Regions from separate parts of the Homo sapiens genome. Here region 2 is linked to region 1. Evidence: fine-mapped expression QTL. Tissue or cell type: whole blood. Region 1 holds a variant in brackets; the other region holds the start of a gene. All regions are shown on one strand. Distances are between the middles of the regions.

The links. PIP is the estimated chance that this variant, and not a neighbour inherited with it, causes the effect.
Region 2: it holds the start of CCDC9B, and the variant in region 1 is fine-mapped to the expression of CCDC9B in whole blood (TOPMed, PIP above 0.99).

Annotation. Positions count from the first base shown.
Region 1 is chr15:40,308,116-40,316,198 of GRCh38, reverse strand. LOC112268152 (a long non-coding RNA gene) reads left to right here. Exons shown (of 3, transcript XR_002957721.2): 3 at 5,417-6,162. It also overlaps the pseudogene RPLP0P10. Among named protein-coding and RNA genes, the nearest start is that of PLCB2, 4.2 kb to the right of the region's middle. RefSeq lists a silencer at 5,931-6,134. The variant G/T (reference allele first, on the strand shown) is at 4,352.
Region 2 is chr15:40,336,923-40,345,023 of GRCh38, reverse strand. CCDC9B (coiled-coil domain containing 9B) reads left to right here and starts at 4,085. Exons shown (of 11, transcript NM_207380.3): 1 at 4,085-4,216; 2 at 5,009-5,119; 3 at 5,405-5,512; 4 at 6,121-6,276; 5 at 6,364-6,489; 6 at 7,131-7,300; 7 at 7,578-7,636. The coding sequence starts at 4,205. RefSeq lists silencers at 175-264, 285-394 and enhancers at 1-561, 745-1,244, 4,189-4,992, 7,902-8,101.

The DNA.
Region 1 (8,083 bases):
AGGCCACTCTCTGGGGGCTAAAAGAGTGTTTGATTCACTGACGTGGGATCTCACATACCATTGCAGAAGACCAAGAGTCCCACTTTAAGGATAGAATGGGCACATGATCATGGGATCTTTTAGGCCTATTACATACTTCACCATCCAGAAGCTGAATAGAGCTGGTGGAATGATAGAACAGCCTTTAGAAGCACAGCTGAAATACCATGTTAGAGATGATGGGACACCGTGCTCCAGGATGAGGTATGCATCCTAATCAATAACTGTTATATATGGTGCTATGTGTCAACGTGTAGAATAGAGGTTTAGGAAACTAGGGGTAGAAGTAGGAATGACTCCACTTACCATCACTCCCAGTGACCTTTCTGGAGGAATTTGTGGTTCCCATTCCTGCAGTTCCAAGCTCTCCAGGTTCAGAGAATCTGGTTCCCAGAGGGGGAGCACTTCCACCAGGGACAGAACAAGAACCCCATAAACTTAAGTATGGCTGCTTTCTGTTCGTCAGACTCTTTGTGCCAAGAAACCAGCAGGAAAGAAGAGGAGTCACTTCCTGGAAGGGGCAACTGACCCCCATCCTTTGGGAGAGATAGGGCTGCTGTTACATAAGGGGGTCAGGAAAGAATATGTTTGGCACCCAGGTGATCCACTGGGGTGTCTGTTGGTATGCCCAATTTTGGTGGAAGGTGGACACATCAGCAGCATGGTCTGAAGGCCATGGTGATTGGTGATTGGTTACCCCGACAGGCAAGCCACCTACACCAGCAGAGGTGCAAGTTGAAGGTAAAAAGAATCTAGAATGAGTGACAGAGAAGGGGAATGATGAACATCAATTGTGTCACCAAGACTAGTTGCAGTAGTGGGGGCTATAGTTTCTCCATTTAATTCTTGTAAGTTTCCCAGAATCCAGGAGGAGCTATTCCCAGGTAGAGTGAACTTACCACATAAATCAAGTAGGTCTGGGCTATGCCTGGGGGTACTGTCTCGGTTGCTGTGGTGCACCACCCAGATACTGCTTTTAGGACCAAGGAGCTTATCCCTGAAGTTGCCAGAAGTGTTGGCTGCCAATGGCTCACACATGAGTCTCTCCCTTGGCATTTCCTTCAGCTGCTAAAGGGAGCTGTCTTGCTGGACTTCACAACCCTTCCCTAGGGGTCATCTGCCAAGTCAATGTGGAATTCAAAGGTACAGCCCTCTTATCCAAGTTGGGGCTAACTCTACGGGGCCAGCTCAACCCCAGGGCTTCCTGTGGAAGCATTCTGTATTGTGACTGCATTGTTCACCAATTTCTTCCTCTGGCTTGATTCTGATTCTTTCACTAGTTCACAGATGTTATCTCTGAAAGCACCCCCAATAAACTTCCTACAAGAAAATCTCTATCTCGGCATGTTTCCTGAGAAACCTGACCTAAGACAGTCTCCTAAGATTCTAACTTTAAAAAAATATGTACTTAAATTTTTTTTGAGAGAGAGTCTCGCTCTGTCGCACAGGCTGAAGTGCAGTGGCACAATCTTGGGTCACTGCAACCTCCGCCTCCCGGGTTCAAGCAATTCTCCTGACTCAGCCTCCTGAGTAGCTGGGACTACAGGCATGTGCCACTGCGCCTGGCTAATTTTTATATTTTTAGTAGAGATGGGGTTTCACCATGTTGGCCAGGTGGGACTTGAGCTCCTGGCCTCAGATGGTCTGCCCCCCTCAGCCCCCCAAAGTGCTGAGATTACAGGCGTGAGCCACCGCACCTGGCCTAGATTCTAACTTTTGGGACCTCAGAGAACAAGACTCATCCATGTGAAGTTGGGCCTCCTGGCCACCTGTGTCTTCTATAAAGTGGTTCTCTTCAGAGTGTTGCCTGCATCCTGGCTGCTTTCCACCAAATATCCTTCAACTTATGACCTTCCCTGCAACAAAGCAACCTAAACTGAATTCCTCAAGTATTTTGGGTGTGGTCTGTTGTGCTGAGAATGAGAATGGGACTGATTGTTCCTTGGTTCAAAAGCCCTGGATGCATCTTGGAATGAGGGGGGATACTCTTTAGAAACTCAAACTCCTGGCTGGGCGCAGTGACTCATGCCTATAATCCCAACACTTTGGGAGGCCAAGGCACGAGGATTGCTTGAGCCCATGAGCTTGAGACCAGCCTGGGTAGCAGAGTGAAACCTGTCTCTAAAAAAAAATAAAAGAAATGCAAACTCCTCACCTTCCTTTCCCTCTCTCATCTCATCCCAGATCACGATTCAGAGGGTCTTGGTACAGCAAGGAATATGCAGTGTTACCAGAGCTTTGCAGGTGGTTCTGGTGTGATATCAAGATGGAGAACCACAGGGCTCAGTACCCGACTTCAGTTCGGCAGCCTGAGTCTGCCCGTTTTTATTGGCAGCTCTGTCATTTGACTCAGATGGAGCTGGCTGTCAGCGAAAACCCTCAGTTTTATTCACACATGCTTCTGCTAAGCTGCCACTTCCCCACCCTGTCCTTGTACAGTCGGTGTCTTGGCACCAAGCCCAGATCTCTCAGTTAAGCCCTGTTCATTTCACCTTGGGAGGTTTAGGCCAGTGCTCCAATAGGTTAGAATGTTTTTGGATCCTGAGTCTGTCTTCCAACATATTCCTGTCTTCGCTGGCTCCTTGCTATTCGCAAAGTTGAGGGGCTTGTTCTCTGTGGCTTTGCCCAGGTCCTGATAAAAAGGTGGATCAGATGCCAAGTTTGGTGGTACATGCCCATAATCCCAGCTACTGGAGAGGGTGAGGTGGGAGGATTGCTTGAGCCCAGGAGTTCAAGACCAGCCTGGGCAACAGGGTGAGATTACATCGTATATTAAAAAAAAAAAAAAAAAAAAAAACTCTCTCTTGGCATCCTCGTGAAAGTGACATTGTCTTTAAACCCTGCGTGGCAATCCCTGATGCACTGCCGTGATGCCCAGGGAAGACAGGATGACCTGGAAGTCCAACTACTTCAAGATCATCCAGCTTTTGGATGATTATCCAAAATGTTTCATCGTGGGAGCAGCAATGTGGGCTCCAAGCAGACGCAGCAGATCTGCATGTCCCTCTGAGAGAAGGCCGTGGTGCTGATGGACAAGAACACCATGATGCTCACGGCCATCTGAGGGCACCTGGAAAACAACCCAGCTCTGGAGAAACTGCTGCCTCATATCTGGGGGAATGTGGGCTTTGCATTCACCAAGGAGGACCTCACTGAAATCAAGGACATGTTGCTGGCTAGTAAGGTGCCAGCTGCCACCTGTGCTGGTCCCATTGCCCCATGTGAAGTCACTGTGCCAGCCCAGAACACTGGTCTGGGGCCAGAGAAAACCTCCTTTTTCCAGGCTTTAGGAATCACCACTAAAATCTCCAGGGGCACCATTGAAATCCTGAGTGATGTGCAGCTGATCAAGACTGGAGACAAAGTGGGAGCCAACAAAGCCACGCTGCTGAACACGCCGAGCATTTCTCCCTCCTCCTTTGCGCTGGTCATCCAGCAGGCATCTGACAATGGCAGCATCTACAACCCTGAAGTGCTTGACATCACAGAGGAAACTTCCTTCTTGCTTCCTGAAGGTTGTCCGCGATGTTGCCAGTGTCTGTCTGCAGACTGGCTACCCACCTGTTGCATCAGTACCCCATTCTATCATCAGTGGGTACAAATGAGCCCTGGCTCTGTGGAGACTGATTATACCTTCCCACTTGCTGGAAAGGTCAAGGCCTTCTTGGCTGATCCATCTGCATTTGTGGCTATTGCCTCTGTGGCTGTTGCCACCACGGCTGCTCCCGCTGCTGCAGCCCCAGCTAAGGTTGAAGCCAAGGAAGAGGTGGAGGAGCTGGGTGAGGATATGGGATTTGGTCTCTTTGACTAATCATCAAAAAACAACCAACTCAGCCAGCTTTATTTACAAAACAAGGAAATAAAGGCTTAACTTCTAAAAAAAAAAAAAAAGGTTGGACCAGGACAGGAGTAAGAACAGAAGCAATTGATCAATACTGATGACCTTCCCTATATGCAATGCACCGTGCCCACCTAGAGGAGGACATCATATAATTTATTTCTATCACACTTATTAAAACTGGCCCATTTCACAGAGGGATTGACAGAGGCAGAGGAGTGATTGTGCCCAAGAATGTCACACTGGGATGAGAGCTAAGCCTCTCCTGCCACCTACAGCTCTCATCTCTAGGTTTGTTGTCTCTCAGAGGAAAGGCAAGAGAGAAAAGTGACAAGATTGGCCCTTCCAAGTGGAAAGAGATTTTTAGAGCTGGAAGGATTCTTAGAAATGATCAAAAGTTTGACAGATTCAAGGGCTCAGGTAACTTGCTAAGATCACAGAACAAACCTTTGCTCCAGTGGGGACTAAACTCTG[G/T]GTTTCTTGAAGATGGACACAGGTAAATTTGATCCAAAATAGCACTTCAAAGAGAAACATACATGGACTGATTGTTTTCCACTTTTTTTTTTTTGAGATGGAGTCTCGTTCTGTCACCCAGGCTGGAGGCAATGGTGTGAACTTGGCTCACTGCAACCTCTGCCTCCCAGTTCCAGCTATTCTCCTGCCTTAGCCACCTGAGTAATTGGGATTACAGGTGTGTGCCACCATGTCTGGCTCATTTTTGTATTTTTGGTAGAGACGGGGTTTCACCATGATGGTCAGGCTGATCTTGAGCTCCTGACTTCGTGACCCACCCGCCTCGGCCTCCCAAAGTGCTGGGATTACAGGCGTGAGCCACCATGCCCAGTTTGTTTTCCACTTCTAAGTCCCAGATGGTTCCTTGTCGGGTTATAGAGGGGCTTGGAATGGGAAGACAAGCAACATCTTCCTCCTGGGCATCTACAGGAAACTTGATTGCCTCTCTCCTCCCTAAGGGATCAGTGTTGGCTACCCAGCCTTGCCCATGCCTCCACTTCTGCTTAGCTCTCAGTACACAGAGGGTGGCTGAAGCTGGGGCCACAGAGGGACACACAGCTGGGCAGCTCAGCACTCTCATCTGTGCCTCATCAGCTGGGGGGCTGTGGTGGCATGAAGCTGGTGGGAGGCTGGCACTTGCCCATGATTGGAGCCCTTGTGCTCATCACTTCATGAGTTCAGGCCGCTTGGGAACAGCTTGCTTCAAGTCCACAGACAGGAGCAACCCTAACTCAGTCTGCCCTGCAAAGGTGGGTACAGCCCCTGATCCACACGAACTGCTGGAAGAAAAATCCAAAGAGAAAGTCAGTGAAGACGTTTGTAGAAAGAACTGTTGAAGAAGGAATAAGAAACTGCCATTTTTCCTGTCAGTGTCTGCTAATAAGTAATAATAAAATAACAATGATAACTCATAATGATAATGATAGTATTATTGAGCTCATGTGTAGGCACTGTATTAAGTACCATTCATTATATTCTTTAATCCTTGCAACATCCCCATGAGGCATTATTATCCCCATTTTACAGGTGAGAAGGCTGAGGCCCAAGAAGGTTAAGTATCACAAGATAAACCAGCTAGTAAGTGGCTGGGTTCCTAGAGTGGTGAGTGTGGCTCCCTTTGCCAGACTGGGAAACAGACACCATAAGAGCCATCTTCCCTCCAAAAGAGGGCCAGCCCTTGACCAAGATGGACAACAGGGTTCCACACTCCTGAAACCCACTGCTTCAACCATCATGGCATCAGATAAGAAACCGACCTAGTCTGATCCTCTTATTTGGCTGGCAGCTGTGGCACCTGAAGGTCTGAGTTCAACTTCTGCCATTAAACTTCTCTGATGAGCAAACTGGGAAACCAATGCATGGGGCTCCCACATAGCACTGGCAAGTGAACAAATGAACTTGGGACATATGTGCTGGGGTCCAGGTCACAAGCATGTCCCTTGTGGGAGGCAACATTTGGTTGAATATAAGTTCTTACCACATTCTATGGCCCAAGGCTCCCACTTGCCAAACTCTCTGGCATAGGTGTTCCCGTGGGTCACAAATGACAGACCCAACCGCAACTTCCAGGACATGCATGCTTTGAGTGCACCCAGCAGGGGGCATCCTTGCCCTTCCACTGCCCACCCTGGAGGGGTGAGACTGGCCCACTGCAGGGTTGCCCTCTACCCAGCTCAGCCCAGGAGCCCAAGGCCACATTTCCCAAACGGGGCATTCATGTAACTACCCTGATTTTCTCTACTATTATTTACATAACATTTTTCTTTGTCAACACAAATTTTCAAACCTAAATGTATTTTTAAAAGCAAAAAGCTCTTTGATGAAGATTTTCCGCTCTCCTGACTGCCTGGATTTTCTGCATTTTTGGAGCTAGCTTTGCAGGAGGTCAGGATGTGAGCAGGAGAGTACAGGCCCCCACTGAAGCTACAGTTGTGGTCCCAAGAACAGTGCAGGCAGTGACATCACTGAGTAAAGATGGGCAAGGCTTTGTTCTGTGGATTCGGAGCTGGAGATGGAAAGGAACAGAGTGAGGAGCCCTGAAATCCTGAAATGAGGAGAGGAGGCTGTCCCTTTCCTCCTCAGGCTGAGGGGGAGGAATGGACTGGTCTCTCCAGGCCCAAAGTGGAGAGGGGGCTGATGGCTACAGGACAGATGAAAGGGAGGGACTTGGGTGCCGGGACCAGGGCAGCCGCAGGTGACAGGTGCAGGGGCTTTGGGAAGGGACAGGGATTTCCCTTGCAAAATCCATTCAAACAGATATCGAGGGAACCTGATCCCAGGGAGGAACCCAGAACAGCATGGGCTGCCAGAGGGGCCCCCAGAAGGGCCCCAGACTGGAGGGAGGGAGAGAGGAGAGATGACGCTAAGGGACTGGGGGAAACGAGGAAGAAGAGTCCTCTGAATTGTTACCATTTCCAGAGGCTTGGTCAGGCCCTGCTCCGGCTCCATCCCCCGGCCCTAGAATTGCTCTTCTGCAGATTATTTCTGTGCTGGGAATTCCCTTAGCTCCAGCCTCCACTGGGCAGTTTATTATCTTAATTCCGCATGAAGAGTGTCCTCCCTCACCCTCCACCCTGCCCTGGACCAGACCTCCAGCCGCGACAATTCTAGGGCCTGGGTGAGGGTCTTACCGTTGTTGGGGGTATGCAAAGCCCCATGGGGGGGTGACCCAGGGCAAAAGGCCAGGCCCCAGAGGGGAAGGAAGTCTTGGGTAGAGCTCCCTGCCTCCCAGGCTGGGCTAAGAAGGGCGATAAGAGGAGCAGATTAGGCAAGAGGAAGTGGGCTGGGCTGAGCTGGACTGGTGCTGAACTCCCTGGGCCTGGGGCAGAGTGTGGGTCAGGCACCTGAGCAGCTGGGGCTGAGCCTGGCCAACCAGAGCAGCCATCCCTCCGCCCCAGCCCCGCTGCAGGCTGGGGTACACAGCAGAGGCGGGCACACGGAGGAGAGAGGAGAGCGCAGTGGAGGCAGGGGCTAGGGCTGCTCAGTGGGGGTCCAGGCCTCAGGCAGTCCCAGAGGCCCAGAGGTGGGAGTCTGGTGAGGTGGGTGAGGGGAGTGATTGCCTTGCCTCATGTGCCCCTCATTTTCTTTCTTTTTTTATTTTTTTCGAGATGGAGTCTTGCTCTGTCGCCCAGGCTGGAGTGCAGTGGCGCCATCTCGGCTCATTGCAAGCTCCGCCTCCTGGGTTCATGCCATTCTCCTGCCTCAGCCTCCCGAGTAGCTGGGACTACAGGCGCCGCTGCCACGCCCAGCTAATTTTTTGCATTTTTAGTAGAGACAGGGTTTCACCGTGTTAGCCAGGATGGTCTCGATCTCCTGACCTCGTGATCCGCCCGCCTCGGCCTCCCAAAGTGCTAGGATTACAGGCGTGAGCCACCGCACCCGCCCGCCCGGCAGGTGCACCTCATTTTCATGGGGGAGGAAGCATTGAGAAAGAGGAGCCGTGTGTTCAGCAAACTTTGCTTATTCAAAACACTCCATTCCAGCTGGGCCCTGTCCCCACCCCACCCCTGCCTCTACGGTGCTCCCAACCTTTGGGGTCAGATGCCCATGCTCTGGACCCTTCCCCTGAGGAGGTCCTTTCTCCTAGTGAGCTCCCTGTGCCTTCCCTCAGTCCAGGCCTGGGCAGCAGTCTCCCCAGCTGGTCTCCATGTCGTCCTTCTCCAGCCCTCCTGGGCCAAATCTGACCAGAGACCA
Region 2 (8,101 bases), 29 kb before region 1:
GAACGGCATTGGCGGGGCAGCCGGTGAAGGCGCCCTGGGCAGGAGGCAGCTCCCGGGTGTGTGGCCTCAGCGGCATCACAGACAGGCTGTGCCACCTGGGCAGAGGGCGCCACCTCTTTGGGCTTCAGCTTCCTCATCAATAAAATAAGTCTTCTACAACTAGATGGCTTCTCTAGTCTGATGGAGTTGGGAGGTGGAGGTTACAGGGACTTGGGGGAGGCCCTGTGGAACAACAGAGAAAGGGAACCGCCTCCCGCACCCAAAAACAGGCTGTTGTCGCTCTGCTGCCCCTTAGTGGCGACACAGAGAAACAGACACCCAGTCTCATGGGGATGGCAAGCTGGTCCTTCTCCATCTCCCCTGCTTCCTGTGGGCTTCTCCCCGGGGTGGGGTGGGGCTACTCTTAGGGCACCTTTACCACCCACCGGCTCCCTCAGGGCTGCGTACATTCTAGGTGGACAGAAAGGCAGTCCCAGCCTATGCATAGGATACCCACAGCTATGCACAGGATGGCAAGCACAATTCACGCATGTCTTCATTCTGGAAGTGCTGATGGAGGTTCTTTAGTATGCAGGGGCACCGTGCCAGACACTGGGGATCCAGAGGCACTTGGCAGGTCATTCCTGCCCTCAGAGAGCCTCTGTCCAATGGAGAGCAGACAGGCCAACCACAGACTCTGGGGAAAGTGGGAGACTGTGGGGGCTGCTCAGAGGTGTGACGTCATGTGTGAATAACACTGGGAAACACACAGTCAGCAGCTGCTGGTACCCCCCGTATGATGGTTGGTTTGTCTTGGGCACATACCCCTCTAGCCTGACAGACCAGAAGGCCTTTGCCCTAGGTGAGGGGAGTGTGTTCCTGCAGGCCCTTCCAGAAGAGCTGTGTGGCCATCCCACAGGCGATAAGCCTGTGCCCATGCCTTTACCCCCCTGCTACTCTCTTGCCCCCACCTTGTCTGGGAATGGGGGAGGGGGTACACAGCCTTGCCTTATCCCTGTAGCTTCCTTACCCCATCTACACATCTCCTCCCCAGACCTGGTCCGGGCCTGAGTTCTGAAGAGGCTGGAGAGCATTAGGTCTCCCTCCCCAGCAAGTGCTCTGCGGGCCTCCCAGCTCCAACACAGTGCGGGGCAGGCGAAGGGAAGTTTGAGGCTTCTGGAGGCTTCTGAAGCCTCCTGAGGCTGGCGTGGAACTCAGTCCACTGTATGGGGCAGGATGCAGAGCGTCTGGGAGAAGGAGAGAGAGTGTGTGCGTGTATGTGTGTGAGAGAGGCCCAGGGCACAAAGCCTGGGTGCGTCATGGTTGCTGGGAGAGTTTGACGAGTCTGACTCAGTGGGGACATCCGGCAGGAAAGGAAGGGAGAGCGCAGTGGCATTTGCAAGCAAGATGGGAACTCTGGGGTGGTGGAGATGGGGTGTGGGGCCAGGGGTGCTGTGCAAAGGCCTGGACAGGAAGAGGGCTAAGCCTGGCGGAGCTGGGGGAGGGAGTGGGGAGGAAAGGGCAGTTCTGGAGGGGTGGAGGTTGGACCTCTGGCTGCCTGGGTGGGTCTGGGAGGAGAAAGAAGGCAGCGGGGGTTTCTGCTCTGGAGACAGAGGGGACGAGTTGTGGCATTTGGGAAACTGGCCTGGTCAATCAGGGATGTGGGGAATGCAGGGGCTTCTGATTCTCACCTGAGGGCCTGGAGCTCAGGGCCTTGTAGCTGAGGAAACAGACTCCACGAATTCCTAGTCCAGAAAGACCACCCTCCTCTCAGCACCCCCAAGCCTTGAGTCCCAGAGGCTCTAGGAGCCTGGGCAGGGAGACCAGTCTCAGCTGTATGAGGAAGATATGGGGGAGGAGCTTTCCTGAGAAGGGCTGATTCCTTTGCCAGGTTCAGAGAGGCTGAAAAAGCCAGTCTTGGAGAGCAAGGCCAGGAAGGGCCCAAACTTAGGGCCCGAGGGAGGAAGGCTGTTGACCAGCTCTGAACTGCCATGGCAAGGGCCCTGGAGGAATGCCTGGCTCACCATACCAAAGGGCTAGAGACCCAAACAACAGAGCCTCTTGGAAGCGGCTGTGCTTTAAAACATAGTCATGTGTCTGCTAATGACAGGGCTATGTTCTGAGAAATACGTTGTTAGGTGGTTTTGTCATTGTGTGAACACCACAGAGAGCACTTACACAAACCTAGATGGTACAGCCTACTACACACCCAGGCTATATGGTATAGCTATTGCTCCTAGGCTACAAACCTGTACAGCAGGTTACTGTACTGCATACTGTAGGCAGCTGTAACACAGTGCTAAGTGTTTACATATCTAAACTTAGAAAAGATATAGTAAAAATATGGTGTACAAGATTTAAAATGGCACACCTGTATAGGGCACTTACCATGAATGAAGCCTGCAGGACTGGAGGTTGCTCTGGTGAGTCACTGAGTGAGTGATGAGTGAATCTGAAGGCCTAGGACATTACCGTCTGCTACTATAGATTTTATAAACACTGTACACTTACGTTAGACTAAATTTATACGAATGATTTTTTGGTCAGGCATGGTGGCTCATGCCTGTCATCCTAGTACTTTGGGAGGCCAAGGCAGGAGGATCACTTGAGCCTAGGTGTTCAAGACCAGCCTGTGCAACATAGCAAGACGTTCTCTCTACAAAAAATTTTAAAACTACCTGGACATGGTGGCATGCGCCTGTTGTCCAAGCTACTCAGGAGGCTGAGGCAGGGGGATCCCTTGAGCCCAGGAGGTTGAGGCTGCAGTGAGCCATGATCATGTCACTGACCTCTGGCTTGGGTGACAGAGTGAGACTGTCTCAAAAAATGAAAAATTAAAAAATATATATTTTTGTTTCTTCAGTAATAAATTAACCTTAGCTTACTGTAACCTTTTTACTTTATAAACTTTTTAATTTAAAAAAACTTTTTGACTCTCTTGGTAATAACCCTTAGCTTAAAACACAAACAAAACACATTGTACAGCTGTACAAAAATATTTTCTCTTTATATCCTTATTCTATAAGTTTTTTTGCTATTTTGAAACTTTTTCTTTTTTTTAACTTTTTAAACTTTTTTCTCAAAATCTAACACACACACATTAGCCTAGGCCTACACAGAGTCAGAATCATCAACATCACTGTCTTCCATTCCACATATTGACCCACTGGAAGGTCTTCAGGGGCATTAACAGGCCTGCAGCTGTCATCTCCTATGCTAACAATGCCTTCTGGATTTCCTCCTGAAGGACCTGCCCGAGGCTGTTTTACAGTTCACTTTTTTTTGTTGTTGTTGTAAGTAGAAGAAATACACTCTAAAATAATGATAAAAAGTATAGTATAGTAAATACATAAGCCAGTAACATAATTGTTAATTATCATTATCAGGTATTCTGTACTGTGCACACTTGTATGTGCCATACTTTTGTGCGGCTGTCATGCCGTAGGTCTGTTTACACAAGCGTCACCATAAGCACATAAGTAGTGCCCTGTGCTACCATGTTATAATGGCTACAATGTCACTAAGCCATAGGAATTTGTAGCTCCATTATAATCTTATGGGACCACCATCATATATGTGGTCCATTGTTGAGTGAAACGTCATTATATGGTGCATGACTGCACAGAGAAGACAATGTCCAACCTAAAAGAATGAATGACTATTGTTGTCATTTTAGGGATGTGGTAGTACTTGGTAGTCTAGGGGAGGTGAGCTTCTTGATCCCTTTGAATTACTTAAACCAAGGCTGATGAGGAGAAGGAGCAGGAGAGGGCAGGCGCATCTGTGTGCTGTAGGCCTTTTTCTACTCATGGGAGGCACAGAGGCCTACGCTGGCTGCCCATCTTGTCTGCAGGCAGGCCCAGGCTGGGGTCCTGCTGGGGCCTAGGCAGCCAGGCCTCCTGTGTAGGCTTGACCCACCAGGGAGAAGTCCCTACCAGTCTGTCTGGGGACGCTGGGGTGGGGCAGGGAGAGGTGCTAGGCAGGACCAGCCAGCTGCCAGTGCCCTGGTCCTCGCCCTCTGAGAGTGGAAGGGTGGGGGTGGCGGCCCGACGTTCCTGGCTGGGAGCCCAGAGGAGTCTTTTGTAATCACAACATGATCTCGTGTGCTGAGCAGCGAAGCCGGCAGGGAGAGGCCGGCAGAGGCCCGGCTCCGGTGGCTCCAGCTTTCCTCCCACTCTGGCTCCCCAGGGGCTGCTCTGGAATTCTCTCGGTGCCCGCCGTTGCCATGCACTCGGCTGTGAGTGGCAGTCTGCCTTTGGCAGGGGGCTTCTTGGGACTGGGAGGGGGCTGGGATACCAGGCAGCCACCCTCTGGGGGCAGCTGGGGACAGCTGGGGCTGGGAGGAAGAAGGCTGTGACTAGGGTCACAACAGAGAACCTGCATCCAGACAGAGAGGAACCTGGAATCTTGATGCAGAGACATGGCTTGCCCAGGGTGACTCCTGGGCTGGGGCCGCCAGGGGAGCTGGCTCTCTCCGCCCCGACTACCAGCAGCTTTCGGCCTGGAGAGGCTGGGCCCCTGGGAGCGGCTCTTTCCTCCAGGCTGGGCACAGGCCTAGGTGCGGGGTCCAGGGCCTGAGAGCCCAGGACGGAGCCAGGGCCTCTCCTTTTTCTCTGGTTGTGGATCTGGGAGCCAAACAGCTCCCCCCTCGACCTCCCGAATCCCCTGGCAGCTTCCCAGTCACGGCAGGTTCCGCTGCCAGAGCCATTTATAACTCCCATTCCAGGCTCTGCTCGGCAGTGAAGCTCCCTGGAGAGCTGGGGGAGGGGCACCCCACTGCTGGGAGCTGTGGCTTGGGGTATGAGGCCCTGACCTGAGCCCCCTGAGGAGGCAGGGACAGGCAGACGGGCCTAGCTGGAATGGGGGCTTGGGGCCTTATTTGGGCCATCTCCCTAAGCAATCCCCTTCCTTCCTGGGTGACCTTAGCTGTGGGTCTGGGATCTCTTCCTTGGGTGGTGAAAATGTGAAAGCTGGGGACTGGTGAGAGGGGGACCCGGAAGTCAGGAGCTTGGGTTCCCTGCCTCTGCAGGGAACTCCCAGAGCCGAGTCCCCCATGAGCAGGCAGGAGAAGGACGCAGAGCTGGATCGGAGGATAGTTGCCCTGCGCAAGAAGAACCAGGCCTTGCTCCGCAGGTACCAGGTGAGTGGGCTGCCACAGGGCCAGGAGAAACCACTTGGCTGCCGCTCCCTGTGCCCCACACGTGGTGGTCTCCCTGCAGGCTCAGCAATGCGCCTCTGGGGCTGGGGCCAGGGGTAGGGTGGGCATGGTCCCTCTTAGAGGCTTGGTGAGGGTCCTGGGGATGTGTGATGTGGCGCCTCTGCCCCCTGGTGTCCCACTGGTGTCTCTCTGTGTAGGCCTATCAGCATCTATGTCTCTGTGCACCTGGGGGGCCATGGCGTGTGCTGACCCCCAGCCCTCCCACAGGAGATCCAGGAGGACCGTCGGCAGGCAGAGCAGGGGGGGATGGCTGTGACCACACCAGCACTCCTCCAGCCTGATGGCCTCACCGTTACCATCAGCCAGGTTCCCGGTGTAAGCCTCACCCTGGGAGACAGGGCTCGTAGCAAGGAGGTGGAGGCCCAGACCATGTCGGGGAAAGACAGCTGCCTCTGTTCCCCTCTCCTACTAACTATTCTGGGGTGCACCTGCCAGCTCCCAACCTCCTGCAGTCGGACCACTGCTGTCCCCACCAAAGAGCCACAGCTGAAAGCCCCCCTACCCCCAGTAGATGCATCTTCATACCCTTTTCCAGTCCACAGCCCTGCGCCTATGCCACAAAGCACAGGCCACTCCTAAACCTCAAGCCCCAGGGGCTAAAACCCTGCAGGAAGTGGGGGACAGAGAAGTTGGGGCTGAATGCCAGGAGCAGTGTCTGAGGGACAGAGACCCATTGTTTGAGTGCTCTGGGTTTCCCAGCTCAGAGATGACGGGCCACTGTGGCATCTTGGGCCGCTGGGTGGCCCTGGGCCCTGGATAACCTCATGCCATTGGCATGTGAACACCCTGTGGGAGTCAGCTCTTCTGTGGGGAATGCAGGGAGGGCTGGGGTTGGAACCCAGGCCTGGGGAACCACCGAGAGGACCCAGCACCCAGGTCCTGCCCAGCACTGCCCATGTGGCCTGAGGGTCTTTGTTCTGCAGGAAAAGCGGGTGGTTAGCAGGAACTGGGCAAGGGGTACCTGTGGACCCAGAGTGACCAACGAGATGCTTGAGGATGAGGATGCTGAGGACCACGGGGGTACTTTCTGCTTAGGGGAGCTGGTGGAGCTGGCTGTGACCATGGAGAACAAAGCAGAGGTGAGCAGGGTGGTGGGGAGTGCAGGCATCGGCAGGCAGCCTCTTCCTCCCTGGCTCTGCTGCACTGCCCATCTTCATCCTCCCCAGGGCAAACGGATTGTAAGTGAAAAGCCTACCAGAGCAAGGAACCAAGGCATAGAGGGGTCACCTGGAGGGCGTGTGACCCGAAGCCCCCCCACGCAGGTGGCCATCAGCTCAGATTCTGCACGGAAGGTGTGTCTTCAAGAGGGGATGGGGACATGGATCTGAAGGTCCTCACTTGGGGGAGGCAGAGAAGCTGAGTCAGATATGTCCCTCATTTGCGGGGACGTGGCCAAGGGAGCACATGCAGGAGTTCCTGCTCCTCCTCCCTTTCTCTGGCCAGTCTCTACTTTGGGTGGGCCTTGAAGTGGGAGACAGTTTAAGCCAAAGATGTGATCCAGCCCCCTCCCCTATTTAGCCCTGCTGATGGTGGCATGGGAGTTGGGGAGGGGGCAGGAGGGTGGAGTTGACTGGCCAAGTGCCAGGTGTGACCTCTAGGTGGCAGCAGCCCCTAGTCCTTGCCCTTGCTCACAGCTTCCAGGGCCCCTCCCACTCCGGCCCGTCTGCATACCCCTGCAACACCCCTGTGGGTTGGTGCTACGGAGATCCTCCCCATTTTACACGAGGAAATGAGACACAGAGAGGTTAAATTACTTATGTAAAACACACAGCTAACAAGTGGATGGAAACCATTTCCACGGGAGAGCTGGAACAGGCCTAATTTTTAGCTGGAGATGTGGAAACCTTGAGAGAGGAAGCGCCTGGAGTCTCCAAACCCCACCCCAAGCCTCTTCCTGCTTCTCCCCCTCACTCTGAGTGTCTTCTCCCTACAGGGTTCTTGGGAGCCCTGGAGCCGGCCGGTGGGGGAGCCCCCGGAGGCGGGCTGGGACTATGCCCAGTGGAAGCAGGAGCGGGAGCAGATCGACCTAGCCCGCCTCGCCCGGCACAGAGACGCACAGGGTGACTGGCGCCGCCCGTGGGACCTGGACAAGGCCAAGTCCACGTGGGTGGCTGGGTTGGGCAGGTTGCCTGTGGTGCGGGATGGAGCTGGCTTCGGGCACTGCTGGGAGGGCTGCAGGGACCCTCCTCGGGGTTGAGAGGACCTTGCTGGGCATTCTGGTCGAGCCCAGGGTTCAAGGCTCTGGGTCTCCCATCTTTCTTGGGCCCACCATCTCCCTGCTGCCTTCAATTCTGGGCCTGGGCTTCGGGGAGGGGGGTGTCAGGGTGGGGCCCGCGGCAGCTTCTGTGCACCAGCAACCTGACTCCCTCTGTCTACACAGGCTACAGGACTGCAGCCAGCTGAGGGGAGAAGGCCCGGCCAGGGCAGGCAGCAGAAGGGGTGAGCCCACACCTACCTCATCCCTCCCCTCCTTGGCTTTGTTCATCTTTCACCCCCTTGTCCTCTCTTTTCTCTGTCTCTTAGTCTCTTATTTTCAGAGCTGAAAGGAAGCGTTGGAGAACATCTTCCTTCCTCTCCCTCACTATCAGAGGAGGGCACCAAGACCTCCCATCCTCCCCTCTGAGCCCACAGCTCTTGTCCAGGTTCTGAGCAGAAGGCCCCAGAAGGAGGCTCAGTGGAAGCCGGCCCGGGGTCTCTTTGAGGTCCCTAAAGGGTGAAAGTCCTGGTGGTCCTTCCCCAGACCTACTGTAGAAACAGCTCTGTGGAGTTCTGGTCCCCTTGTTTTATATATAAAGAAGCTGTGGCCTGAGAGTTGGGGCCAGACACCTAGCCATGGAGTGGCAAAGCTAGCACAGGACCCTATTCTCCTGACCCCCAGGCGAGGGCGCTTTTGGGGAGGCAAAA